Homo sapiens: one gene and its partners. The protein of the gene in region 3 interacts with the protein of the main gene of each other region in a biochemical or structural test. Each region holds a gene or a part of one and is shown on either strand. Other genes may lie near its edges. The genes, in order: TNIK, MAP4K4, STRIP1 and MINK1.

What was found.
Region 1: the proteins of STRIP1 (region 3) and TNIK form a complex in vitro, tested with the Homo sapiens proteins (one study listed by BioGRID).
Region 2: the proteins of STRIP1 (region 3) and MAP4K4 form a complex in vitro, tested with the Homo sapiens proteins (one study listed by BioGRID).
Region 4: the proteins of STRIP1 (region 3) and MINK1 form a complex in vitro, tested with the Homo sapiens proteins (one study listed by BioGRID).

Annotation. Positions count from the first base shown.
Region 1 is NC_000003.12:171,449,711-171,457,450, forward strand, and holds part of TNIK (TRAF2 and NCK-interacting protein kinase), read right to left. Parts: intron 831-7,740; exon of another isoform or gene 1-830. UniProt on the Homo sapiens protein: Serine/threonine kinase that acts as an essential activator of the Wnt signaling pathway. Recruited to promoters of Wnt target genes and required to activate their expression. May act by phosphorylating TCF4/TCF7L2.
Region 2 is NC_000002.12:101,696,367-101,700,506, reverse strand, and holds the start of MAP4K4 (mitogen-activated protein kinase kinase kinase kinase 4), read right to left. Parts: upstream 2,801-4,140; 5' UTR 2,427-2,800; coding exon 2,370-2,426; intron 2,243-2,369; exon of another isoform or gene 2,065-2,242; coding exon of another isoform or gene 2,035-2,064; coding exon 1,969-2,034; intron 1-1,968.
Region 3 is NC_000001.11:110,042,829-110,050,568, reverse strand, and holds part of STRIP1 (striatin-interacting protein 1), read right to left. Parts: intron 7,482-7,740; coding exon 7,299-7,481; intron 6,931-7,298; coding exon 6,713-6,930; intron 6,251-6,712; coding exon of another isoform or gene 6,232-6,250; exon of another isoform or gene 5,882-6,231; intron 5,730-5,881; coding exon 5,664-5,729; intron 5,555-5,663; coding exon 5,491-5,554; intron 3,890-5,490; coding exon 3,818-3,889; intron 3,028-3,817; coding exon 2,953-3,027; intron 2,798-2,952; coding exon 2,700-2,797; intron 1,458-2,699; coding exon 1,331-1,457; intron 1,110-1,330; coding exon 1,009-1,109; intron 227-1,008; coding exon 160-226; intron 1-159. UniProt on the Homo sapiens protein: Plays a role in the regulation of cell morphology and cytoskeletal organization. Required in the cortical actin filament dynamics and cell shape. Part of the striatin-interacting phosphatase and kinase (STRIPAK) complexes.
Region 4 is NC_000017.11:4,879,691-4,887,430, forward strand, and holds part of MINK1 (misshapen-like kinase 1), read left to right. Parts: intron 1-1,293; coding exon 1,294-1,350; intron 1,351-1,423; exon of another isoform or gene 1,424-1,441; coding exon 1,442-1,567; intron 1,568-4,672; coding exon 4,673-4,783; intron 4,784-5,221; coding exon 5,222-5,312; intron 5,313-5,792; coding exon 5,793-5,923; intron 5,924-6,220; coding exon 6,221-6,275; intron 6,276-6,429; coding exon 6,430-6,508; intron 6,509-6,760; coding exon 6,761-6,936; intron 6,937-7,419; coding exon 7,420-7,489; intron 7,490-7,740. UniProt on the Homo sapiens protein: Serine/threonine kinase which acts as a negative regulator of Ras-related Rap2-mediated signal transduction to control neuronal structure and AMPA receptor trafficking.

The DNA of each region.
Region 1 (7,740 bases), on a different chromosome or scaffold from region 3:
CTGACCATGCAGAAACCATTGCAATGACCATTGCTTTTACAATGAGAACCAGAAAAGCCTTTTAAAAATTAAACAAAATTTTTGGGAGGCCAAGGAGGGTGGATCACCTGAGGTCACAAGTTCGAGACCAGCCTGGCCAACATGGTGAAACCCCGTCTCTACTATAAGTATAAAAATTAGCCAGGTGTAGTGGTGGGCACCTGTAATCCCAGCTACTTGGGAGGCTGAGGCAAGAGAATTGCTTGAACCCAGGAGACGGAGGTTGCAGTCAGCCAACACGGTGCCACTGCACTCCAGCCTGGGTGATGAAGTGAGACTCCGTCTCAAACATAAAAAAAAAATTAAACAAATTTTTAACAACTCAGCAGGCTTAGTCTGCTTTCTTTCACAGTCTGCATTTTTTGGGCCCTGGAGCCCCAGGAGTCTTCGTAGCTTCCCACTCAGGTTAAGATACAGCACATATTTCCAGCTTCTACAGGTGGCCTCTTTGCACATAGAATCGTAACCTTTATTTTCAACATCTGAAGCATTGCTACTTATCTATATTGATTAACTTAGCTGAGTTCTCCTCTACCATCTAATTAGATTTGGTTTCTTCACAGTGGAGCACAGGCTATCTTCAGTGTGTTCCGTACATACAAGCAACTTTATAACCATCTTTGTATCCATACTTTGTTAGACTGGTTTTTGTGTTGTGGGAATGACTGATTCACTAAGATGTCCAGGATGTTGGCAATCCAGTTGAGGGACGTGGTATAACGGGACCCAGCACTGCATTCGAATTTCATCCTTGGACAAGACAAGTAACTTCTCTGACCCCAAATTTCTACCTACAAAAGAGGTAAATTGGATCACCAATCACCAAGCCCTAGGCAGACAGATAGATAAGTAGATATATAGACAAAGATATGCAAACACAATCCCCCTTTACTTTTCATTTTAGCCTTAACATGGTTTTATGGCTTTATCCTATTTATGCCTTTTATCAGAAGGTGCCACAACTTACTTTTTGGAGGTATGAGGTGTAATAAATAAATAAGATCCCTTTTAAATGAATGAATTAATTGCATTCACACAATTGATATTTATTCAATCAACATTTATCATGTGCCAGACACAGTTCAAAGCACCAGGAATGTGGTGCTGAACATGCAGGCAAGATCCCTATTCTCACAAAACTTATTAGGCTCCAGTTGGGACAGCCAGATTTTTAAAAAATTCAGATAGTCACGACTGCCTTAAAGATAATAAAGCACTGAATTGGACAGTTTCAGGGTGGAAGGGAGTGTTACTTTACAGATATATTGCAAAGAAAGCCTCTCTGTTTAGTAGGGAGCCTCTAAGAGGGCCCTCAGTGACTTCTGCCTTCTGGTGTTAGTTAATATTCTTGTGTAGTCCCCTTCGAAATGAATAGGGCTGACTTGGGTAGCCAACAGGGTATTGCAGAAATGATGGTGTGTGATTTCCAAGGCTAGGTCATAAAAGACATAGTGGCTTCTGCTCTGCTTTCTTGATTCCTCTATCTGGTAAAAGTGGGCACGATGTTATGAGGATGCTCAAGCAACCAATGGAGCCACCTACGTGGGGAGGAACTGAGGCCTCCTGCCAACATCCAGCACCACATAAGTAAATCATCTTGGAAAGAGATCCTCCAGCTCCAGTCAAGCCTTCAGAAGATAGCTCACCTTGCCAAAATCTTCCTGCAACCTCAGGAGATACCTCATGCTAAAACCACCCAGGTAAGCCACTTCTGAATTCCTGGCCCACAGAAACTGTGAGATATAATAAATGGTTATTGTTGTTTAGGCCACTAAGCTTGAGGGTAGTCTGCTATGCAGATACATAAGTAATAATACAGGCAGCATCTCACCTTAGACCTAAATAATAAGATGGAGCCCTCCATGTGAAATTTCTGACACGGAGAACTACAAGAATGAGCTTGGCATATTCACAAAACAGAAAAAAATCAGTGTGGCTAGAGTGTAGTAAAAGACAAGTGCAGGCTCTCTTCTCCATCCAACCATGGGTGTAGAAACCATGCCAATGTTGTCTTCAGCTCAGCCCCAGCAACTAGTAGCACCCAATAATCAGGTACTGAATGAATATATACACAAACAAATAAATGAATGAATGCTGGATACCATGTGCATTTCTTCCCCTACAGTTAATCACATTTCACAGAATCACAGAATACTGGGCCTGAATTTACCCTGCACCCAAACTTGCACCTTCTAATACACTAATCAAACAAATGTTTGTAACATATGCAATGTATTGTTAAAGTCTACAAATTTCCTACTTGATGCATACTGCCAAGGTTCTAATTTCACTAACTAGAGAGACAGCACTTTAAAATCTAGGGTTACTTCAGAGTCTAAATCCGGGTATCCAGCAGCAACACTGTAAGGGAGTACCCAGCGGAAGTCACAGTCAGCCCTTCGTCCTATCACTCGGTCTTCAAAAACTAGAACAACACTTTAAATTATAAATCAGAATCTGACAGCTGGAAAAAAATAGCTCATTTAAAAATTAGAAAGGGATGTTACGTTCAGTGGCAATTCCCAGCTCATTGAGGTGCACAGTTTGCAATCTCTTGGTATCTCCAACAGATAGAATAAGAATCCATGGCTATTTAAATGCCCTCAGTCCTGCCTCTAGTTCCCTTACATATTCCAGGAATATGCATCCCAGCAATACAAATTGCTGGAAGTCACCTCCAGCAATTTCTAGTCCAAACCACTCATCTTACATGTGACAAAACTGAAGCTTAGAGGGCAAGGTGTCAGAGCCAGCTTTATGACGCTGGGCTCTAACTCCCAGCTGTGTGCCTCATTAAACCTCACCATCTCCCAAACTCTCTCTACCCGCTCACTGCCAGCTCTGTCAAGATAAAAACTCAACGTTGTCTTCCAGTGGGCCACCCCAGAAGCACACCCTTTCCCGCCCATCTATTACTGTTTAATCAAAACAGCAGTCATAAGTATTATCCGATTGTTGAAATAATTGAAACACACTCCAAACACACACACACACACACACACACACACACACACACACACACATACGCCTTGCAATTCTAACCCATGGTATTTTAAATCTCTCAAAACTTAGAATAAGACAATGGAGAGAACACTTTCCTTGGCAGAAAAATTCTAGAAATAGGAATACCTACCCAGGACCAGGCATAGTATTTCTCGTAATTGGTGCCCCCGGAATTGTACTCTATGTAATTAGCATCCACTGGAATTGTACTCTACATAAAAAGTGTCCCCAGGAGTCATGCAACCTAGACTATAATGTAATTCATGATCCCTGAAATTGTGCCATGGTCAGCAACAGGCCCCACCTTTCTGAGGTTTCTATACTCTCTCTACATAGCACCACCTCCAGCCCTTCTAAAAGGGTTGCACAGTATATATTTTGTTAATTCAAAATTTATTTGTTGAACGAACGCCTGCTGTGTAAAGAAAACTGGTGAGGATCCCTAAGAAAATCAAACGTTGCCTCTAAAAAGGAATTGTCTAGTAGTGAATATAATCCAAGACAGAAAGTTCTGAGTGTTATGAAAGAGGTGTGAGGTCAGTTCTGAGACAGTCTATGAGTGGGAGGGACAACTTGAGAGAAATCAGAGACTTCTGTGGAAAAGGTGGTCTGCGAATGTTCAGCGTTGGGGCAGTAGGTACAGAAAGGAGACTAAGACAGAGCGCCCCCTACAGAGCATCCATGGGGGAATGAAATTGTTCCCTGCCGCAATGGGGGAGTGGTCGTCAAAACTGCAGAGCTCGGTGGGAGGCCCCTCTGAATTGCCGCTGGTCTTAACATGCTAAAGAGTTTAGTTTTCAGTCTGTAGACTAAGGAGACAGAGAAGGCCTTGAATAAAAACAACCAGATTGAAACTGTGCGTTTGGAAGACTCACGTGGCTACAGTGTACGAGAAACCAGTCAGAAGAAGGCTGGTGGTAGAGACACAGGAGGAGGGGAGGTCCTGTTGCGGGTGTTGCCCAGGGGACAGTAACTACAGCACTTGCAGGGAACAGTGGAGACAAGGGGACCCATATGATAAACATTAAGGGAAGAATTTTAAGTTGGGGTGATATAAAATGTGTTTTGAGAAACTGAGGGCACCCCCATGAGACAACCAGGACATGTAAAAAAGAGTGGATAGAATCATGTTTCTCTAAAGGGAAATAAGCTTCCAACCAGACTGGAAGGAATCACAAGCGGAATTCATCCAACATTTTCTACTTAAGTCCTCCCTCTCTCTCCACTAGAGACCTTATATTTATATGTGCAGAATAACATTTCATTCAAAAAATATCATTAAGATTTTCTTAGAATTCTCAGCACACTGCTAACAAACCAGTTTAGGCCCTGTTCTCAGAGAGCTACTTCCCCCACAGAAATGTAAGAATCAATTTGACATTAAAGCATCTTTCAGACTCAAGTTACTCCAGATTCTATCAGGAAGGGAATCAGAGACTGGTTGTGCTCAGCTGGGCATGGCGGCCATGATTCAATCACAGGAGCGCCTGGCTGGGTGGACTTTAGAACCACTATCACTGAGAGAAGGAATGGCGTCGAAACAAGAAGGGCACGGAAGATTAATTCCAGGGCAGAGACACAGAAAGAAGAAAGGCCGAACGGGCAAGACTCGAAATTATAAGATATCAAAGAGTTTTACAGATAAGGGGGAAAAAAGGAATATTTCCTGAAAGAAATGTACTGGGTACTCTCTCATCAACAAAATATTACATGACCTCCTAAGTAGATAATTATGCAAACAGCAAACCATGACTTACACTGGCTTTTGTACTAAAGATTACTCCAGTTAATAATGAATAATGAAAATGATTATGCATATTTCTCTGATGTTCTGATAAATACCAGCACACCCTACTTTTTATGAGGCAATGCCATTGTAAAGAAAACACCTGTTTAGTATCTCTGAAAAATAAAAAGAATATCTAATGAAAAAATTGCCATGCTGTTATCATTTTGAGATACTGTTATCAACTCATGCAACTTTACTAAAATCTCATTTTAGACCAAATTTAATTAAGTGCTCTGGAGTAATGAACTAATAATGTTTCGAGATTTCTTTGAGCCCCATGAGACCTCTCACCAGAAAGTTTTAAATACTGGGCCATTAGTGTATCATTTTATGTGTCCACTCTATCTCCCAAGGGAAAAGATAAAACTTTAGGAAGGCACAGTCATGATCAATGTGTTTGTATTTGAATAATCGGTAATACATAAAGAGAGAAAACTTTTTTTAAAAAAGAAGGTTTTAATGAACAATGCTGATAGTTGATACTAGTTTAGAAATATGTTAATCTCCAAAAAACTTCAGGGCTGCACTTACCTCATATGTAATGAATGCTTAATACTGGGGGCGCAAAGCTCAATTCAGGCCATCAAAGAAACATACAAGGTCACATTGGTACACAAAAGGAAAAAGGCAGCTAAGGTCTGTGGAGGTACTGTTAAAAAGAGTCGGAACCTTCTGATATCTTTTTCTGAAGATTATTTTCCTTCTTTTCTTAGTCTTCTTTTTTTTTTCTTAAACAAGATGTCACTCTGTCACTGAGGCTGGAGTGCCGTGACACAATCACAGCCTCGACTTCTCAGGCTCAAACTATCTTCCCACCTCAGTCTCCCAATTAGCTGGGACCACAGGCACACACCACCACACTGACTTTTTTTTTTTTTTTTTAGAGATGGAGTCTCCCTACATTGCCCATGATGATCTGAAACTCCTGGTTTCAAGCAGTCCTCCCACTTCGGCCTCCCGAAGTGCTGGGATTACAGGTGTGAGCCACTGTGCCCAGGAAAGATAATTTTCTATTAGATAAAATCATTGCAATCAAATGTTGATGGTATCAATTTTCCCACTAAATTCTACTTAACCATGGGATAGCATATTTGTACAGTGCTGTATGGTTTTTAAAGCATTGCCTTAAATACTTTATTGATTTTGAAACCAGTATGTGAGAAAGGCAAACAGTTGTGATGATTCTTATTAACTATGGTTAAATGTCCTACCCAAAGTCACAGAGTGAATAAGAGGTGGACATAGAACTGGGGAGACAGGGTTCATTCCACTCCATTCATTCAAGCATTCATTCACGTACTCATTCATCCAACTAATGGAGACTATGGCTCCAAAGATGAACAAGATCTAGCCTCTGCCCTCAAGAAGTCCACGGTTTAGTAAAGAAGCAGAAAGGAAATCACACACCAAGTAAAACATGAGCATGAAAAGTGTAGCAAAGGGATGTATGCAAGGCTTTCAGATGAGGTCAATTCTTAAATCTGGGTTTCAATGGAGAAAGGAATGGCTAGGGAATGAGGGCTAAGGGGAAAGACAAGTGTAGATCATCTAATTTTGTTCAAATACAAAAGTGTATGTGAGTCCTGGCAGAAGCTGAGAGTATGAGGTCAGCAGCAGCCAACTCCTGGCCTTGAATGCCTTACCCTGTGGGCCAAGTTAAGGACAGCCAAGGTGCTTAGGTCCAGAAATATGCTAATCTCCAAAAAGCTTTCTGGGCTGAGCTCGCCTCATATGTAATAAAGCACACTGGTGGCAACTTTCATCTCTTTTAATACTGAGATGTCTTGAAGCAAGAATGACTCAAGCCCCAGGTTTGAATGAGTAAATTGTTTGCTGTAGCCTATGTATGTATACACACATTTTCATACACCCACGTGGATACGGTTTATATCCATAATACTACACATAATATATGTATCCACATAGATAATACAAAACATACACACAACTCTATAAACCTCACATGCAGAGCCATCTGAATAACATGTATGTTTATACTGACCCCTTGAGACATGCTCTGATGGACACAGGTTACTCAGAGAGGTTACCTGTGCAGGACAACCATGTGTCCTAGGTGATTTCAGACAGTCGTTTGCCTGCAGAGTAGGCATTGAACCAGGGCTGGACAAGATGAATTCCAAAGGTGGCCTAGAGCTCCATGGTTTCATGTATCACAAGCTTACTTGCATGAAGTAGTTTCGCCATTCTCAATAAATAAAATTCCCTGACCCTGGTGAAATTATTCCTTTCTGCTATTCTTTTGTACTCAGGCAGAAAATGTATTATTGATTTCTGATTCCACCACAGAAAGTGTGACTTAGAGAAAAGAGCACTGAATGAGGAGTCAGGAAATCTAGATTATTTCCTCAAACCACGCTCCTCGCTGTCCCCTCCCCTTGTTACTGTGTGACCTTGAACAACTTACTTCACGCCTCTGGGCTTCAGTTTCCCAAGTGTTCAATGAAAGGAGTGGCTGAGTGTTCTACAATTCTCTTTCCAGCTCTGAATCTATAAAACAATTCCAGCCCATCCCTCAAGATTTAGTTTATCTCTGAGCTCTAAAAATCAGGGCTAAAACTGGATTCAAAGTACCTATTTTCTAACCAAAGAAGATCCTGCTTCACTCACTTTTAAACCATGCAAATCTTGCATAATTTAAATGATCAGTGCTGTCATTGGTTGCTCTGGTTTAAATTATGCATTGTTGCTATTTGGGGAAAATTTAGACTGGGTCCGGTCTGGAATCACTGGCTGAGAACAATAAGCCCCCAAAGTGAGAAGGATAAAGGCCTCTCTAGACAGGATCTGCTTTTAATGCTTTGAGCCCAGGGTTTACAAAAAGAGCATTGACTGTGTACATTAAAGAGCCACCGAAACAGCGAGGGACTGGTAAGTCTGCAGCAAATTCT
Region 2 (4,140 bases), on a different chromosome or scaffold from region 3:
CTCAGGCACTATTTTGTTCTGGACTGTAGGCAACTTTTGCACAGATTTAATTCCCTAGGTTTGCATAATTAGAGAAATTCTCAACTGTACCGACTTTGTAGTCAGAGAGCTGTGTCATGCCAGTATCCCAAATACCTACCAAACGTAGCTAGCGCTCAGCAAACCTAGTTCAAAAGCTCGGGAAGGTTGCGGGGAATGGAACCAAAATGGCAATGAGGGGAAATAACAATGAACCTGACTAAACTCTTACCATAAACAGCTCCCACCTCTTAAAACCAATAAAGACAAACTGGGGTTTCATTCTTTCCTTTCTCTTAAGGTTTAAAGACTATATCGCCTTCTAGCTTACTTCTCTGCCCTTAACATCCATGCTGACCAAGTAAGACACAAACAATCCAACTACTGTGTAGCCAGGTCAAAAACAAGCTCTGGCTAATTCACTTGGAAGACTACAATCACCATTTAATTTGGCGAGAAAAAACTGGGTTAGAAAAAAAATGACTGGTGCTTAAACAAACAACAGACCGGGGAGAATGTCTTTTAGCCAGTTACCAACCACTCAGTGAGTTGCAACACAATCTTTTCCAAAATTTTCCAAAGCCTTCCAAATTCAGTTGAGCCGGGCAAGCTGAGTTAACGGGGCTCTCTTTCAAATTCAAAAATCTGGCCCCGGCCCGAACAGTTAACCAACAAAACACAAGCTAATACACTTGAGATCACCTAAGAATACTGACCCAAGTTCGGACCACAGTCCAGTACAGTACACTACCCAGGCTAGAAGTCTAGGCTAAGGAGAGGCGTTCAAGTGATAGATAAACTCTACTCACAACGCAGAAAAGAGACAATAAGATCCACACTTAATCTAGCCTAAGAAAAGGTCTACAGTCGGCTTCCAACCCCCCCAACTCCACCCATTTTTAATGAGACAATGACAATTCTTCATGGTGAACCACAGAGCCCTGCTTCCCTAACCTTGTACCGACTCTAACAGAACACTCCCCCAGTGCAGATTAAACTTTTAGAAAACGTTCAGTATTGAGAAACAAATTAAGACAGGAAAAATTTAACATTCCGTTCTGAATTTTCAAGGCCTGCGCCTCCATTCCCTACACATCTTTCATAATCTCTAGACTGTACAATGTATAAAATGAACACTGTTAGTCACATCAGGTGTCAGCTACTCAGCGCAGACTCAGTCTCCAGATTTGCTAGTTTCATTTATCGCTGGGGTGGAGGGTGGGTGTTAAAATTTTGAAAAAAGAGAAAGACCTGGGTGGGTGTAAACCAGGGCATCCTCTATATTCTCTTCGCTCTCTGTCATTTCTGTTTCAATTACACAGCTGTCAAACAGGTTATTCCTGGAATTCAGATTTTATAATCCCCACACTGTAATTCTTCCTGCTGCTGTTGCCCAAACACACACTCCTCCCTGCTTCCCCAAAATACGTATCCATCAATAGAAAGGATGACAACCACAGTTATAAAGTATTCCCAGGTAACGCCAAACTCCCCACCTTGAGCAACTGGCAAGCACTGAGTGGAGGCTGAAACATGATGACAATTTTCACGATGGCCAAAGCAGTGGTTTAGGATCGTCAGAGGCAAGGCCCGCCTCCACTGTATTTCAATTTACACACAAACTCAGAAGGCCGGATTTGGGGAAAAAAAGAAAAAATTCAGGTTGTCTTATTTTTAAAAAATGCTTTTCCATTTTATCGAAGTAAAGTGCATGCCTAAGAGTGTAGCTTATTTCCTTATCTCAAAGCCAGGAAATGAGGTCTTTTAAGGCCAGTCTGAATATAAACTCGGTGTGCAAAAACAGAGGGACTGCAAGGCGAAAGAAACCCCTCTCCCAACTTTGGCCAAGCGGCGTGGCCTCCAGTCAGCAGCATGTTTATCACCCTCTCCTCGTCCCCCAATAAGAAGTTTCCACATGCCACGGGAAACAAAGAAGGCGCCCACACCGACCTTATAGACTTGTCCATAGGTGCCATTTCCAACCACTTCCACCAGCTCAAAAATCCCAGCAGGATCCTGGAGAGGAAGGAGGGGAGGGGTTATCATTTAAAAGAAGCCAAAAAAATGAATAAATCAAGCAAGGCAGTTGGAGAGAAAAGGCGGTGACAAAAGAGGTGGGCTTCGCCCCGCGCGGTCCCCCAGCGCCCGGGGGTCGCGCGGCGGGCTCGGGGCGTGGGGGCGGTAGAGGGTAGCGCCCGCCCCGCACCAGCCCGCACAGGAAGACAAAGGGGCCGCCGCGCCCCGCGGCTCTGCCCACGGCGGCGCCCGAGCGCCCGGCCGACCTGGGCGCGGCCCCGGCTGCCGGCTGCCGGCTGCCCGCTCCCCGCGCGCCCGCTCGCGGGCCCACTCACCCGCAGGGAGGAGAGGTCGATGTCCACCAGACTTTTTGCAGGGGAGTCGTTCGCCATTTTCCCTTTTTGCCACCAAAAAACAAATAACAATAAATGTCTCTGTCGCTCTGTGTATCTCAGCCGCAGACCAGGCCGCCGACCGCGCTCCTCGCGCGGCAGCCGAGCCGGCCCGGTACTCTCCTCGCGGGGCCGCGGGCGGCGGCGGCGGGCTCGGCTGCGCTCTCGGGCCGCTCGGGGCTCTCTGCCGGCCGGGCCGCGCGGAGGGCGGACGGAGCGTGCACGGGCGGCGGCGCTCACACCATGGCGCGGGGCCGGCCGTCAGGCCCCCGGGCGTCGCCCGCCGCCTCAGGCCCCGGCGCCCGCGCCCCGCGCCGCGCGCCTCGAGGACGGGCCCGGAGCGTGGGGCCGCGGCGGCGCCGAGTTGAGCGAGTGAGCGCGAGGCAGCGAGACAAAGATAACCCGGGAGGCGGAGGCGGAGGCGGGGAGCGAGGTGGGGAGGGAGGGGGCGGCGGCGGCGCTGGAGGAGGAGAAACGGGACACCAAAAATATATTCTGAGGAGAGAGAAAACAGCTCCCCCTTTCCTCCTCAGGCAGGAAAAACCGGCGGAAACGCACTCACACCCCGAGCCCTGCCGGGTAGGGCGCGGGCCGAGGCGCCCGCGCGGCGTGAATATTCATCAGGGGTGGGGCTCGAACAATGGCCGCGCCGGCGGGCAGCGCGGGCAGCGGTCCCGACACGACGCCCGGCGCCCAGGGTGCGGCCTCCGCGCTCGACCCCGCACGGCGCTCCCGAAAACTGCAGGAGCGGGGAGGAAGCGGGCTGGGATTTCCCCGGGGAGGAGCTGGGGTGGGGAAACGCCCCTACCTCGCGCTAACAACAAATGACACGAAACTGAGCTGGACCGACACTAAGAGGCCATGGACCCTCGCGTCTCCCAGGGCAAGGGTGTGTCCCGCCGGCCGCGTCCCGGCTCTAGAGGGACCCGAACCCGGTGTTGCCGAGCGGAGGAGGGGCCTCCCTCGATCCTCGCCCCCTCCTCGCCCCATTCGCCCCATCCCCCACTCTCCCACACCCTAGAGAGGAGACCCTTAAGTCCCTCGTTTCCGGCTTCCCTGCACGGTTTTCTTTTCCTTTCTCTGCTTTTGCAGGCTAAATGTGTGGTACGGTTGTGGTTGTAGTTGTGGGATTCGCTGAGCATCGCTGGGCTGCCCGGCCATATCCAAAACAGCTCCTGTAATTGTCTGGCGCTGCGCTCCTGGCTGCGCTCGGTAGGTGAGCACTGTGTTTGGGGCCCTTAGTACCAACCCGCATTTTGTAACCTGGAGATCACTAAGGATCAACCAACAGGTTTCTTCCGGCAACCTCGGAAGCCAGTCGGTAGTTAGGCACTTTAATGCCAGTGAATCAACAGTCATTTATATCGCATTCCTCCACCGTCCAAAAACTTTCAGTGGTTCCCTGTTACCTGACAGGTGTTCTCAAAACGTGAGTGCTTCAGGCAAAGTGCCAATTGCCTGGCCCTGCCTCCCGAGTTCTCGTTTCAGGAGGTCTGCAATGGGCCTGAGAATGTGCATGTGTAAGTTCTCAGTGTAGCTAACGTCGCTGTTACAGGGATCACTCGTTGACAACAGTGGCCTCCGGCTATTCATGATTGGATTTTCATAAACATCACCATCATCATCTACCAATTCTTATGCACATACTGTGTCTCCCCCACACAAACGCGTTGTGCCGAGTGCTTTACACACAGCACTCTATTTACAGCCTTGA
Region 3 (7,740 bases):
CTGGCCCTTCTGTACACTTACAGTGCTTTAAAAGCCGGGCACTCCACAGTGATTTCACCTGCGGGAGACACCTCTATTCCTGCAGTGTTGGGGTAGGCAGGCTCTCTACCCACTGACCCTGGTGCCAAAAGGACAGCTGAGGAGAGCCCAGCCACTCACCAAACTCTCCGCCGTCAGCTCTGGCAGCTCATGCACCACGCAGTGAGGGTAATCCAGGACAGAAATGCTGCAGAGGGGAGAGGAACCAGATGCCCACCATGAGCAAAGGCCCAGGGCCTGGTGGAGCAGCCGTGCCTGAGCCAGCTCCCAGCTTTCCTCCCTCACTTGTTGGAGCAGAAGTAGGAATCTACCTGATGTGTCCCACCCCAGTTTCCCCACCTATAAGATGAGGAAATATCTGTTACAAGAGAACTTGTAAAGCACCCCTGTAGCCAGAGGCCAGCTTGTTGATCTTGTAAGGGGAAGAGACCCTCACAGCTTCCCCCACAGCAATCAATGTGGGGCGGGGGAGGAGATAGCTCAGGGCAACTAATTTATGCCAAACCTTTCTGGAGACAGGGTCTGGCCGGCGCCCTGTGGTATATCACACTGACGAGCAAGTAATGTCAAGCACAGCTGGCACCAGGCCAACAGCAGGGGCTAAGAGTCAGCAGATAGGGCATTACAAGGCACATGGCCGAGCCCCTTAGAGACAGCAAGCAGCCCATGGACTCCTCAAAAAAAAAAAAAAAAAGTACAGAAGGGACAGGGAGGAAAGTACTAGATCCTGGGATGAAAACCCTCCTGCCCAGGCACAGACCAAGTCACCTGGGGCAGGACTAGCTAGACTCAGATTTGACACAGTGGGCTCTCCACAGGCAGAGGCCATGTCTCATTTATCTTTATGTCTTGATGCCTAGCACAGTGCTGGCTCGTAGGTGCTGGAAAAATGGACACAGTGGGAAATACCAGCTGGGAACTCTGCCGTCTGACCATATCCACCCCTTCATGGTCCCTGGCCCTCATCACCTGTTCTTGGCAGTGATGTAGGACATGATGTTTTGATTGAAGAACTTTAGGATCAAAGGAATGCAGTTGGCAAACACCAGGTGCTGGGCCATGTATTCAAACTGAAGCCAACAGGAAAAAAAAAAAAAAAAAAAGGCGCGGCCCTTGGGACCTTGCCCTCTTTCCTCCAGGGATGAAAGGCCTTGGCTGAAGGGCCATGTCTTAGAACATTCATGCAGAGTTCAAGTGGGTCAAAGGCCAAGGCCCCCGTTCTTGTGGGCTGGAGGAGCAGCAGTGCCCGAGGCCCCAGCCCACAGGACAGGAGGGAAAGCCCTGTGGGTACCTGGTAGACATGGTTCAACTTAAAGTGCTTGAGCAGCAGCAGCAGGACAGCAGAAATGGCCTTAACAATGACCTCTTTGTGGCGGTTTACATCCACCCCCAGCTTCATGCTCTGCAACACTGTGGTGCTGGAAACATAATTGCCTGGGTAAGCCACCAGCATGCGCAGTACCTCATTTCTAGGTGCCCACAGAAAAGATGGACTCCGGAGCCTCCCTGGGCAAAGACTCCTACCTCCCCACTCACCCCAAGGACATCTCAGAAGTCAGCCGAGGGCTCCCCCATCCACCTCCCAAGCAATGTAGCCTCGCACAATTTATTTCTTCCCCATGATGCCCTCAAATACATTCTCAGTCTGTTTCTCTGCCTTTCCTCCAAAAATGAACTTCTTCTCCTTTCCAAGATCTCCCCTAAGCTTCTGCTGCCATATTAACCTGAGTTCTCCAAATGTGTTCTGTGGAATACCAGGATATTGGCAAGTTTCATGTCATGGAAAAAAAGGGTTTTGGAGTAAGATAAATTTAGGAAGCACTGAGTTACATTGGTTTCTTAATTCAGGACTTCTCATTGTACATCTTTGTAAGAGGAATTCCTCCTTATAAGAGAAATCCATGAATCAAATATACAGTATTTGACTCTAGAACCTTTTTTCCAAGGACCATCACATGATGGCCTAGTGTTCTGTGATCCTCCCTCTGGTGTTAGCCAACCCCTGCCTCCTCCCTCAGCCGGCCATCACTGCCATACTCCGGGGCCACAGCCACCCAGGAGCTGGGCTCAGGGCTGGTGGCCCAGGCAGGCAGAAGATCAGGTCAAGGTCCAGGTCCTTCTCAAAGTAGAACATGATCTCAATCTGGACTCTCACATGAAAGACAAGTACAGGGCACAGGGCAGAAGAGCTCTGAAGAATCTCACTCTATCGCCCTGAGACATTTGCCAGCATTCTGCGTGCCCAATCACTGGCGAAAAGGGATGTCTCTATACCTGGCACAGGTTCAGCTGTTGCTGGCAAGCTGTCTACAAACTAACCCTCCTCATCCTGGGTGTCTCAATCACAGCTGGAGAGTGGGGCTTTGGGGAAATGTCCAGGGTGGCCCCATTCATTTTACAGAGGAGGAAATGACTTTCCCCAATTCACTCAGGAGTTTGCTCAGTGGTAGAGTCTACACTAGAATCCAGGCCAACAGGACCAAGCCATCTCCCCAACCAGTGAAACTCTTTAATCTCGTAGTTTCCTTTTTTTGGGTCAAAAATACCTACATTTAACCTGTAGAGCTGGGCCAACAACAACCAACCTGACAAGAGGAAAATGTTTGCCCTTCTCCATCTATCTTCTGCCCCACCTGCTTCATTCACAGAATGATACTCACGGCATCTCCTCAGGCAAGACGTCCGCTAGGATGTTGATTGAGTCTGTTTTGGCTTTTGAGGTGGGTGCTGCAGCCAACAGGATCTTCAGGAGGGCAATCTGGGAAGAGTAGACCATTCAGACACAGGTCTGAGAGCCCAGGGTCAAAATTAAGCTCTGAGCAGTCCTCCTGTTGGTCTGCAGGTGGCAGGAGGACGGCAGGGCCTGCTCTAAGGCCAGTGTAGTGGGAGTGTCCCACTGCAGGCACCACTCACCATATACTGAGGCAGGCTGGGGAGCAAGCCTTGGTAGAGGGTTTCTGCAGGGACTTGCTCAACTTCTTCTTCTCCCTTTTAACATAATGAGTACAAGCATAAAACCCCAGCCCAGAATACAATCTCCTGAGCCAGCTTCCTAGCTGGCTGGAGGAAAACCTGTAAACAGTGATGTACATAATGATGTTAATGATGATAACAGCAAACCCTGAACACAAACAATGTGCCAAGCATTTTACTTGTAATAACTCAGTTCATCCTTATTATTATAACCCTATAAAGGTATTATTATTCCTATTTCACAGACAAGGAAATAAAGCATAGAGAGACCCAGTAACTTGCCTAAGTTGCCATCCATAAAGTGGTGGACCCAGGCATCAGAGGCAGGTTCCTGACTCAGTCTGTATTCTTAACCCTGCACTAGACGTGTCTCAGCCTGTGCACTGGGAGGTGGACTGGGAGCTCTTTGAGGGCAGGGCCTGGGGCAACCTTGTGGTCTAATCCCAGCACAATGCCTGGGAAGAGCTGGGGATCCCGGGGGCTGAAGAGGACCTCTAACTTTTTTTTTTGAGATGGTCTCGCTCTGTCGCCCAGGCTGGAGTGCAGTGGCGCTATCTCGGCTCACTACAAGCTCCGCCTCCCGGGTTCACGTCATTCTTCTGCCTCAGCCTCCTGAATAGCTGGGACTACAGGCGCCCGCCACCACGGCTGGCTAATTTTTTTTTTTTTAGTAGAGACGGGGTTTCACCATGTTAGCCAGGATGGTCTCAATCTCCTGACCTCATGATCTGCCCTCCTCGGCCTCCCAAAGTGCTGGGATTACAGGCGTGAGCCACCGCGCCCGGACTGAGGACCTCCAACTTACCCCTGAGAGAGGGGAGCGGAGGTATTCCTCCTCCATCTGTGCCTGGACCTCTGCAATCGACGTGTACTTGTGCTGGTGGGAGAGATGGGAAAAGAAGGGCTGGGGAAAACATTCTCTGGCCAAACTCCCTGCACTCTAGCAAAATCCCCACACATTTGTCTTCAAACACAGTCTTCTGAAAGAGGATTAAGTCACCACAAAAATCCCTAGCTAAAATCCCAAACCCCAGATATTTTTTATTTTTATTTTTTTGAGATGAAGTCTTCCTCTGTTGCCCAGACTGGAGTGCAGTGGCATGATCTTGGCTCACTGCCACCTCCGCCTCCCAGGTTCAAGCAATTTTCCTGCTCCAGCCTCCCAAGTAGCTGGGACTACAGGTGTGCACCACCACACCTGGCTAATTTTTGTATTTTTAGTAGAGATGGGATTTTGCCATGTTGGTGAGGCTGGTCTTGAACTCCTGACCTTAGGTGATCCACCCACCTTGGCCTCTCAAAGTGCTGGGATTATAGGCGTGAGCCACCATGCCTGGCCCCAAAATATTTTTCTAAAAGGGCCCCTTCCTCTTGCAACTACAGTAAGAAGCCCATGGTAGATAAGAAAAAAGTAAATTAAAGGAGGGAAATGGCCTTTCAGATAGCTACAGCAACAGGAGAAAAACTGAAAGCAAAATCAAGTACTCAAAAAGCCTAGCTGCAGAGAGACCACTTAGTACTACAAATTCCAAAAATATATTTCAAAAACATAAAAACAGTTTCACTCCAGATAGCTGTTAGGGGAGATGCCTCTTCCCCACTCTTAATGTTCTCTCCCGTGTGGAGGGACAGGGGTTTGCGAAACACCCCTCATCTCTCTCTGCCCCGTCCACACACTCACTCCTCCCTTCTCTGATCGGAGAGTATGGGAGGGGACACAGGGCGGACTTGTCCTCACCCTTCTCTTTTCTCTTTAGAACCTGTCTGCCTGCTGAGAGTCTGCTCTCTTCTCCTCCCCGCCACCAAGCTTGGCAGAGCCTCCCCACACTGCCTGGGACTGGTAGGTAACTCTGCCTAATTCTGGAACAACGTATTAGGACACTACTGCTGTGTTCTTAAGCCTCATTCTCCATGGCTCTATGAGCTATAAAGTTGGCATTACAATCTCCATCTGCCTACTCCTCTATTTCAACCGCCTGAGAACGTGGGCAAGGAAAAGGAGGGCTATTTATTGAGCTCTTTAGAATTTCAACAACTGTCAAGTAATATAATCCTTTTTTTTTTTTTTTTTTTTTTTAAAGAATCCGGGTCTCACTCTGTGGCCCAGGCTAGAGTGCAGGACCATGATCATAGCTCACTGTAGCCTTGATCTCCTGTGCTCAAACAATCCTCCTGCATCAACCTCTTGAGTAGCTGGGACTACAGGTGCATGCCTTGGTGCCCGGTGGTCAGGTAATATAATCTTTAAAGACTTCCCAGTCAGTCCCAAACAAAAGCTCAGCTAAAACAAGTAAAACTTATAATAAAACAAGCAAAACTTACGAAAGACTGTTTGCAAGGTTATTGCAAAGTCCACCCCGGCCTCTACCCCAGGTTCTTGCAGGCAGACAACAGTCTTAAAAGGCTTCTCCCTACAGGCTGGTTTCACTCTACTCACTTAGGACCAAACAAGCCAAAAGCTCACCCAAAGCCACTCACCTGTTTCAGAGTCTTGATGCTTTCGTGGATTGGCCTGGGCAGCCCCACCACTGTGTTCGTGTCACTGGAGAATAAAGAAGGCCCTGTGTTGAGCCTCGACATCAAATCACCTGGGATCCCAAACACCAAAGGCCGGGAGAGCTAACAGCAAAATGAACTCGGCTTTTACTCACCTGCCTAGAGTGTAACCTATAAATTTGCTGCGGCTGGACTCAAGGAACATCTCAATGTCTTTCTCTCTGCCACATCACCAAAAAAGAGAGAAAGAAAAAAGGTTTTTAGCAAATGCTATTTCAAAGTGTTACAGTTAACAAAAACACAGCATCCAGAAACTGTGAAGCCAGGAGAAGTCTCCTATAATTGTTTTTCTCTTTGAAAAAAGGGAAAAAACTGAAATTTTCAGAGAATTTTAATGTTTCTTATAATTTTGCTGGATCAGTAACCTGGAAATACATGTTAACTAGTTTATTCATAAAATTAAAGGGATATATCAAACTTAAAAACATGCTTTATTCAGATAGTATGAACAAGTTTGTCAACAGACTTTCTTAAATATTAAAACTTTTAAACAATTAAAGCTATAGGCTACTGATTTTTCATATAGCTCACTTTTCCTATCCCAAACAATCAGCATACCTTGCATTTTCTGATGATCTGTTTTGCATTCCCTTCACAGATCACTGAAAACTGAGGCTTTACCTGGATCAAGAAAGCGACTTCTATATCCTCTCACATGTTCATCTATTTCTTAAGCTGCTGCCTATCAAACAGACACCATTTATATATCTCCAGGTACCGTCCCATCCATCGATTTACCCACATATATCTCAAACATTTTCATTATGGCTCTAAAGAAACTCTTCCTTAATCTATCATTTTTGTTAAAAACCATACACAACCCCAGGATGGGTGGAGACATGTTTGCTTAAATGCTTTTGTTTTTATTTGTTTCCTATCCCCCTTCACTAGCACATCTAACCAAGAGCTAACTCCAATTACTGCCTCAGTAGCCACATGAGGGCCATGTTGTGTGAGACCAGCAAGGCCGGCCTCCCTGAGACCCTCAGGACAGCACAGGGTGCTTTAAGAGAGCCTCATCCCAGAGCCACGGTCAGCCTGCCCTGCAGAGGACCACACATGGTGACACAGGCCAGGTGGCAGGCCTGAGGGTGTGAGGGCTCTGCCTCAGGAACTATGAGTGCTCTGGAGGTCTGAGACTCACCTGACCTTGGGAGCCCACGGGAGCCCTTTGGGGCAAGTCAGCCTGTCAGTCTGTGGGTGCTGTAGCGGGGGAGGCATCACTTCATCCCGTTCCAGGGGAAACGTCTCCCCCTCCAGACTGTTGTCATCATCATTCTCCTCTTCCTCTTCTCGAGAGTCATCAGCCTTGTAGGGATCCCGCTCGTTGAAGGCATCTAGGTTGTCCTGCTTTATCAGAGCCTGAAACCAGGGAAGGGAGATGAGACAAGAGCCAACTGAGGACGCAGACCAGGGAAGTGCAGCCAGAGGAGACACAGCACATACAGGTGTCCAGTAGAGGCAAGAACAGTGGAAAAACCACAGTGGGAGTCAAGACGGGGGCCAAACCATCAACTACTTCTTGCTCCAGTCCCTCAAAAGCACCACGTGCTGAGCACTCACCATACACTGGACCAGAGCTGGGGACAAAGTATCCTCGCTGTGGAGGCATGATTCTGACTGGCTGATCAGAGATCATTTCCAGCAGCCCTGCTCCTCCAAGGACTGTGCTGCTGCAAGCATGCACCTTGAGGGCCCTCAGGAGTCACAGGGACCTCTGTCGTCCTCACCTTGTGCTCTCGGCGGCCCCGTTTCTGCTGCTGCTCAATCAAGTCTGAAGCAGATGCTGGTGGAGAGGCTGCTCTCATGTTGCGAATCACTTTGATGCTGTCCTCAGGAAGCGGGGGGAGGCCCAGGATGCTGCGCTTCTCAGCCTTCATGCTCTGCAGCTCCTCAAAGCCGCCTAGCGTGCACTGCATCACAGACAGGGAAGCAGAGCCAGGGTCAATGTGTCCACAGGCTGGCCCCTGACCATTGTGTCAGGCTCAGAAACATTCATGACATCATGACCCATGTCTTTATAGAGACCCAGGCAACTCCTGAACAATGGACTGAAGCCACTCCCAAGGAGAATTCCGTGACATCCGCAAGGGAAAGGAGAAAAAGGAACAAGGAAAGAGTGGAGATGCAGGCTGACTGACCCTAGTGCAGATACACTAACTCTGCACCTAT
Region 4 (7,740 bases), on a different chromosome or scaffold from region 3:
GAAGGATGTTGGGGGAGGAGGGCAATGGCTGGGGACACACTCAAGAAGAGGAAGTTTCTTCCCACTAGGGCTGGTGACAGGAGCATTAGCACATGTCGGCGGGCCCCTCTGTGTTTCTCTGAGTTCCCTAAAATCTCAGCTCTGTCTCTGTTCTTTCCCTATCGACAAGAATAAAAAGCTTTGTGGGTGAAGTTGATTCTGGGAGAGGCCTCCTGTCCAGAGTTGGTGAGTCAGGAAAGCACTGCAGCATTTTCTCTTGCTTAGGAGAAGAGGGTGAGGCAAAGCCCCTCCCTCCCTAGCCTCCTTCTCCTACTGCCTCCATCCTCCGTTAGGGTGGAGAAGTATCTTTCACGCCCTGCTCTAACTTTCAGACTGTAGAAAGTCCAAGCCAGAGAGGCTGGAACAGAACATAAATGTTTCTCCCTCATCTGTCTTGAGTTTTTATGGGAGGAGACCCTTCGCCTTTATTGAGCCTGTAACTTGGAAGTCCACTGTAGGTGGTTTTTCTGTTGGCCATGATGGCTCAGGAGCGCTCTCTGTCCACTCCCATGAGCAGCACATTCACTGAGGTGTGTAGCCACAATGAGGGGTACTTGCTTTTTTTCTTTTCTTTTTTTTTTTTTTTGAGACGGAGTCTTGCTCTGTCCCCCAGGTGGGAGTGCAGTGGCACAGTCTCGGCTTGCCTCCCAGGTTCAGGCAATTCTCGTGCCTCAGCCTCCTGAGTAGCTGGGATTATAGGCGCCCACCATGACACCCAGCTAATTTTTTGTATTTTTAGTGGAGATGGGGTTTCTCCATGTTGGCCAGGCTGGTCTCGAACTCCTGGTCTCAAGTGATCCGCCTGCCTCGGCCTCCCAAAGTGTTGGGATTACAGGCATGAGCCACAGCGCCCGGCTGAGGGGCACTTTGTAAGATAGAAAACAGTCGGGCCGGGCGCGGTGGCTCATGCCTGTCATCCCAGCACTTTGGGAGGCCGAGGCAGGCGGATCACGAGGTCAGGAGATCGAGACCATCCTGGCTAACACGGTGAAACCCCATCTCTACTAAAAATACAAAAAAATTAGCCGGGCGAGGTGGTGGATGCCTGTAGTCCCAGCTATCCGGGAGGCTGAGGCAGGAGAATGGCGTGAACCCGGGAGGTGGAGCAGGCAGTGAGCCGAGATCGCGCCACTGCACTCTAGTCTGGGCGACAGAGCGAGACCCTGTCTCAAAAAAAAAAGCTGTGTCTCCTAGAGTCAAGCCCTCTCTACGCTCCACCCTCTGAGCATAGACTCAGATCCCTCTGTCCCGCAGGGTCGGCATGTCAAGACGGGGCAGCTGGCTGCCATCAAGGTCATGGATGTCACGGAGGTAGGGAGTGGAGCTGGGCAGTGGGAGGGTCGGACCAGCGAGAAGGGAGTGTTGGGGGAGTCTCAGGGCTCAGCTCCTCCCATCTGCTTAGGACGAGGAGGAAGAGATCAAACAGGAGATCAACATGCTGAAAAAGTACTCTCACCACCGCAACATCGCCACCTACTACGGAGCCTTCATCAAGAAGAGCCCCCCGGGAAACGATGACCAGCTCTGGGTGAGAAACGCCCCCCTGCCCGCCTTCCCTCCCCGCAATCCCTGTCTCCGGGCTGTTCACTAGGACTCAGTATCAGTGCCCAGCATCTCTCCTTGCCAGCTACCCTCCCTCCGGTCTACCCAGCCTCCCCTGTCCCTGGACCCAGAGGGGCCTCCTGCCTCATGGATGGCCCCGCACTCCAGCCCCCATGAACTGCAGCATCTCATCCTTTGAGTGTTTTGTGGGGAGGGGTCCTGGCGTTTGCCCCAACCCTTCCCCTAACCAGTGTCTCACACTGTGCGATCGGCTCTTAATAAATAAATATAATCCTGGCAAAGGGGAGAGAGACCGTGGGGAGGCCGTCCATCCATTTTCCTGCCTTTGAGCACAGCTCCTGGGAAAGCAACAGAACCAAAATATTTGTGGGAGATAACAGGGCCCAGACCCCTCCCAGAACCCCAGATGCTACAGAGCACCCAGCCCTTCTGGGTCATCATTCAAAACAGAGCCTGCTGCAGAGCTTGGGGCCTCCCCCAAATTCCTCCTGCCTGGCCCAGAACATTCCTAAGAGTCATTCCCCTCCCTAGCCTGGGCACTGGTGCTGACATGTTCCCCCAGCCTCACCCTTTGTGGTACTGAGCCCAGTCCCTGAGGATGGAGCAGCAGGGAGTGTGGCAATGGCTGTCGGGAGTTTTGGCGCTGACGCCAGGTCTCCCCTCCCAACAGCCATTCAGAGAAGCACTTACTAAGCACTTCTGTATACTCTGTATAGATGAGCATGAGCCATGGTCCTGGCCTCCAAGGCCCTTTGGCTTTTTGGGAACACACACACTCATGCACACAAAGAAAGGGAGAAAGGTGACAGGGAGGTCTACCTGCCAGGTGTGTGTGGTGGAGATCGCGGCAGGCTAGAGGCATTAGTGGCCGGGCGCCCCCTTCTGGACCTGTTGGGCACAGGTCCTCCCCTCCTCTCACTGTGCTCTGCTCTCCAAGGAATAGGCACATGCAAATTACTTTTATTGCATATGCAAATATATGTGTCCACCCAACCTTTTCCTGCATTGGATGTGGCTTTTAGTGAAAACTTGGACAAGCATGCTGATTTCCAGGAAGACTGGTTGGAGCCATCTTCTCTGCCTGCGGGTCTCAGCTGCTCTCCCTGGGAGGTGCAGACCCAGAGCCCTCCTCATCTCCTGGCCTTGTTACTCTCTGTGCTGGAGGAGTTTCTCTCAGGGTCTTCCCAGGTTCCCTGTTGCAGCTGTCGAGGTAGACCCTATGCAATCTTTATGTCTCTAGCAGACCTAGAGAATCACTATTTCTTAGCCCCCTTTCTGCTTCTAAGTCAGGGACTGGCAAACTTCTTCTGTGAAGGGCCAGATGGTAAATATTTCAGGCTTTGCGGGTCATATTTGCTGTCCCAGCTACACGGTTCTGTTGTTGTACCACGAAAGCAGCAATAGTCAGTACGTAAACGAATGAGTGTGGCTATAACCCCAGCACCCTCACTGCGGTCACTCACGTTTCAATGTTTTACACTTTCACATGTCATTTAGGATTCCTTTTTTTGTTTTTTCCCGCAACCATTTAAAAATGTAAAACCCAGGCCAGACGCAATGGCTCAAGCCTGTAATCCCAGCACTTCGGGAGGCTGGGGCAGGAGGATCACCTGAGGTCAGGAGTTCAAGACCAGCCTGGCCAACACGGTGACACCTCGTCTCTACTGAAAATACAAAAATTAGCCGGGCGTGGTGGCATGCGCCTGTAATCCCAGCTACTTGGGAGGCTGAGGCAGGAGAATCGCTTGAACCTGGGAGGCGGAGGTTGCAGTGAGCTGAGATCGCGCCACTGCACTCCACTCTGGGCGACAGAGTAAGACCCTGTCTCAAAAAAAAAAAAAAAGTGAAAACCATTCTTGACTTGCTGACCATATAGAAGCAGGCCTTGGGCCAGCCCTGATCCAAAGCAGAAGTTCCTTTTTTTTTTTTTGAGACAGAGTCTTGCTCTGTCACTCAGGCTGGAGTGCAGCGGCGCGATCTCGGCTCACTGCAACCTCTGCCTCCCAGGTTCAAGCGATTCTCCTGTGTCAGCATCCTGAGTAGCTGGGATTACAGGTGCCCACCACCACGCCCGGCTAATTTTTTGTATTTTTAGTAGAGATGGGGTTTCACCATGTTAGCCAGGATGGTCTCGAATTCCTGACCTCATGATCCGCCCGCCTTGGCCTCCCAAAGTGCTAGGATTACAGGCATGAGCCACTGAGCCCGGCCCAAAGCAGTAGTATTTTGTTTTGGGTTTTTTGTTTGTTTGTTTTTTGAGACAGAGTCTCACTCTGTCACCCAGGCTGGAGTTCAGTGGCGCAATCTCAGCTCACTGCAAGCTCCGCCTTCCGGGTTCACGCCGTTCTCCTGCCTCAGCCTCCCAAGTAGCTGGGACTACAGGAGCCCGCCACCACGCCCGGCTACTTTTTTTTTTTTTTTTTTTTTAGTAGAGACAGGGTTTCACCGTGTTATCCAGGATGGTCTTGAACTCCTGACCTTGTGATCCACCCACCTCGGCCTCCCAAAATGCTGGGATTACAGGAGTGAGCCTCCGCGCCCAGCCATAAAGCAGTAGTTCTTAACCGCTGTAGGGTTTGGAATCCCAATGAGAATCTGATGAAAGTACTAGACCCTTCCTCAGGGAAAATGCATATACCTGCATCATTTTGTTTACAGTTTCAGGGATTCCTTGGACTCCTACTCTAAACCCAGCCCCACCCTGCCAGTTCTTTTCCATCTGTATTCCTTCTCCTCTTTTTTTTTTTTTTTTTTGAGACGGAGTCTTGCTCACCATGTTGGCCAGGCTGGTCTTGAACTCCTGACCTCAGGTGATCCGCCTGCCTCAGCCTCCCAAAGTGCTGGGATTACAGGCATGAGCCACCGCACCCAGCCTTTTTCCCTCTCTGTCTTGACTTGAGGAAATCCTGTGGCCTTTGTGAGGCTTCTGTGGCCCTTGCTCTCTAGCTCATACCAGTTCTAACCCCAAGGTCTCTTATCCTCCTCCAGGAGTCTAGCAGGGGATTGGGGCAGGGGTGGGAGGGCTTGTCTGACTGATACTTTTCCTTTCGGTACCTTCCTGGGATCCTAGCTGGTGATGGAGTTCTGTGGTGCTGGTTCAGTGACTGACCTGGTAAAGAACACAAAAGGCAACGCCCTGAAGGAGGACTGTATCGCCTATATCTGCAGGGAGATCCTCAGGGTGAGCTCAAGGCCCCTCCCCTTGTCTTCTCCTCCGCTACCCTGGCTGGAGTTTCTCCATGAGCAAAGATCCTCCCTGCGCTGGGAGGAGACATCACTGCCCTCTTTAGGGAGCAGCAGGCCTGATGCGGGTGGGATGTGGAAGCAGGGTCCACACCTTGGGAAGTCTCAGGCTGTTGGAGGAGACAAGCTCCTGTTTCCAAGCTCTGCCGCTTCTCCACCTGTAACCCTGCAACTGCTGGGAATTCACCTGGAGCCACCTCTCTGAGGAAGCTCTCCAGGACAGCTCAGCTTGCTTGGGCTCCTGGTGGAGAAGGTCTGCTCCTTCAGCCCAGCCCTGTCCAGACTGACTGCTCCTTGTCCCCTCAACTCACTCCCCACTTACTCTTTCCTACCCCATCCAACACCATGGCTAATTTTCCCTGCTCTCCTGTCCCAGGGTCTGGCCCATCTCCATGCCCACAAGGTGATCCATCGAGACATCAAGGGGCAGAATGTGCTGCTGACAGAGAATGCTGAGGTCAAGCTAGGTGCGCCGGCTCCTTCTGAGGCTGACGAGGACCTTTCACCTCCAGAACAGAGAATGAGGGGCCCCTTTTTCTCTCTGGTGGCTCAGGCCCAACTCCCTTCCTACTGGGGAGGCTCACTCCCTCCCCTTTCCCCTCTCCCCCTGGAATGCCCTGCCTCCTGCTGAAAATCCCTCAGGAAGCTCTTCACCTGTCACCTGTTACGGGCCAGGTGCTCTGCAGGTTGCTCTGGGGAGATGGGATCTGATGGCCCTCCTGCCTGGGATGCTGTCCGTGATCCTTTTACCTGGGTTTTTCTCTAAGATGCTGGAAGATGGAATCGGGTTCTTCAGGATGGTGGTGGGGTAAAGGAGGGTGCTGGGGTGTCTGGGTCGGGCCAGGACCACAGCTGGCTCAGGCAAGTCCTGTGTGTGCACGCAGGGATGTGAGGCAAGGGAGCAGAGGTGACTCCCCACACTGACCCCTCCCTCTGTGTCTTCACAGTGGATTTTGGGGTGAGTGCTCAGCTGGACCGCACCGTGGGCAGACGGAACACTTTCATTGGGACTCCCTACTGGATGGCTCCAGAGGTCATCGCCTGTGATGAGAACCCTGATGCCACCTATGATTACAGGGTATGGAGTGGAAAGTTGGGAGCATGGGGGCTGCCAAGGGCGGGAAGCAATATGGGGACCACGGGGCCTGAGCAGGCTGGGGAACAGAGGAAGGTCAGATGATGTTAGCAGTGAGGGGCTGGGGAACATCTTACGGCAAGGCAAGTGTGGGTGGGAAGATGGGATGGGTTGGAAGGCACTGCTGCAGGAATGGGTGTGGCCCAGGAAGGCTCCTGAGAGGCCAGGATGGTGGGTGAAGAGAGGTTGCAGGGCAGAGTTGTCAGGAATATTCACTTGTTCCTTCTTTCCCGTCTATAGAGTGATATTTGGTCTCTAGGAATCACAGCCATCGAGATGGCAGAGGGAGCCCCCCGTAAGTTCTGAGTCTGCCGGGAGTGGGAGGGGAGGGAAAGGAAGGGCCCAGAGAGTGGCTGTAGGGAGGAGGTGGGTCCTGGGACCCTGCCGAGGAAGGGTCCTGTAGCTCCCAGTGCAGTGAAAGGGACTGAGGGTGTCTCCTCTGTGTCCAGCTCTGTGTGACATGCACCCCATGCGAGCCCTCTTCCTCATTCCTCGGAACCCTCCGCCCAGGCTCAAGTCCAAGAAGTGGTAGGTCTCTGAGAGTGTGGGCTCTGGGAAGGAAGGTCCCTGGACAAGGCCATCCCCACCTTCATGCCCTCTGTGCTCAGGCTTGGATCTCACCAGAGAAGAGATTCTGGGGGGCAGAGGGCGGTGACTGGTGTTGGGATATGAAGACAGGAGGGACGTCAAGGTGGCTTGTGGATGAATGATCCACCCTCTTCCTCCTGCACCCATCCCTTCTGAGGGGACCCTCCCAGTGTGAGCCACCACTGTTTCCAGGTCTAAGAAGTTCATTGACTTCATTGACACATGTCTCATCAAGACTTACCTGAGCCGCCCACCCACGGAGCAGCTACTGAAGTTTCCCTTCATCCGGGACCAGCCCACGGAGCGGCAGGTCCGCATCCAGCTTAAGGACCACATTGACCGATCCCGGAAGAAGCGGGGTGAGAAAGGTCAGTGGGCAGGCTGGAGGGGGCAGGTACTAGGGGACACTCCAGCCTGGCTCCTCTCTGCCAGCCCTGCTCGCTCCTGGCACCCCTTCCTGCTCCCCTCCTTGGCCCCAGCTCTCCCTGTCCAAGGAGATCGTTCTCAAACTTGCAACCCCCAAGGGGTTTTCCCTCCTTTCCCTCCCAGTCTGAATCAGCCTTCCAAAGGAGGACCGGCCTTTCGCATCCTTACAAAAACTCCATGCTAAGCACATGTGTGTGCGAGCACAAGCACAGGCTCTGCCACACCTCAGCTGCCCTGGGACCCAGTCCCGGTCCTGTCCAGGCCCACACCTGAGACCCGCTGTCCTCCCATTGCCCCCAGGAAGTGGGTGGGGCCCCTCATGCTTGCCCAGCCAGAGAGACCTGGTTATCCCCACCCAAGGTTTCCCTAGCCCACGGCGGGTCTGGGGCGCTGGGTGAGATAACTGCAGTGGCCTCCCCCTGCAGAGGAGACAGAATATGAGTACAGCGGCAGCGAGGAGGAAGATGACAGCCATGGAGAGGAAGGAGAGCCAAGGTAGGCCTGGCAGGTGGAGTGGGGGTTGGGGCGGTCATCGCTGAGTGGGGGGACTACAGTGGTGCTTGGCTTTGGGGACTCTCAGCCTGGGGGTGGTGGGCACAGAGAGGTAGAGACTCCTGGAAACCAAATTTCTGAGTGCTAAGAAGTGGAACCAATGACTGAGCAAGAGCTGGGGAGAGAGCAATTTGTGGTGAATGTGGGGCGCAGCAGTAATAGGAAAGGAGGACAGGACTGAAGACTGGGCAGAA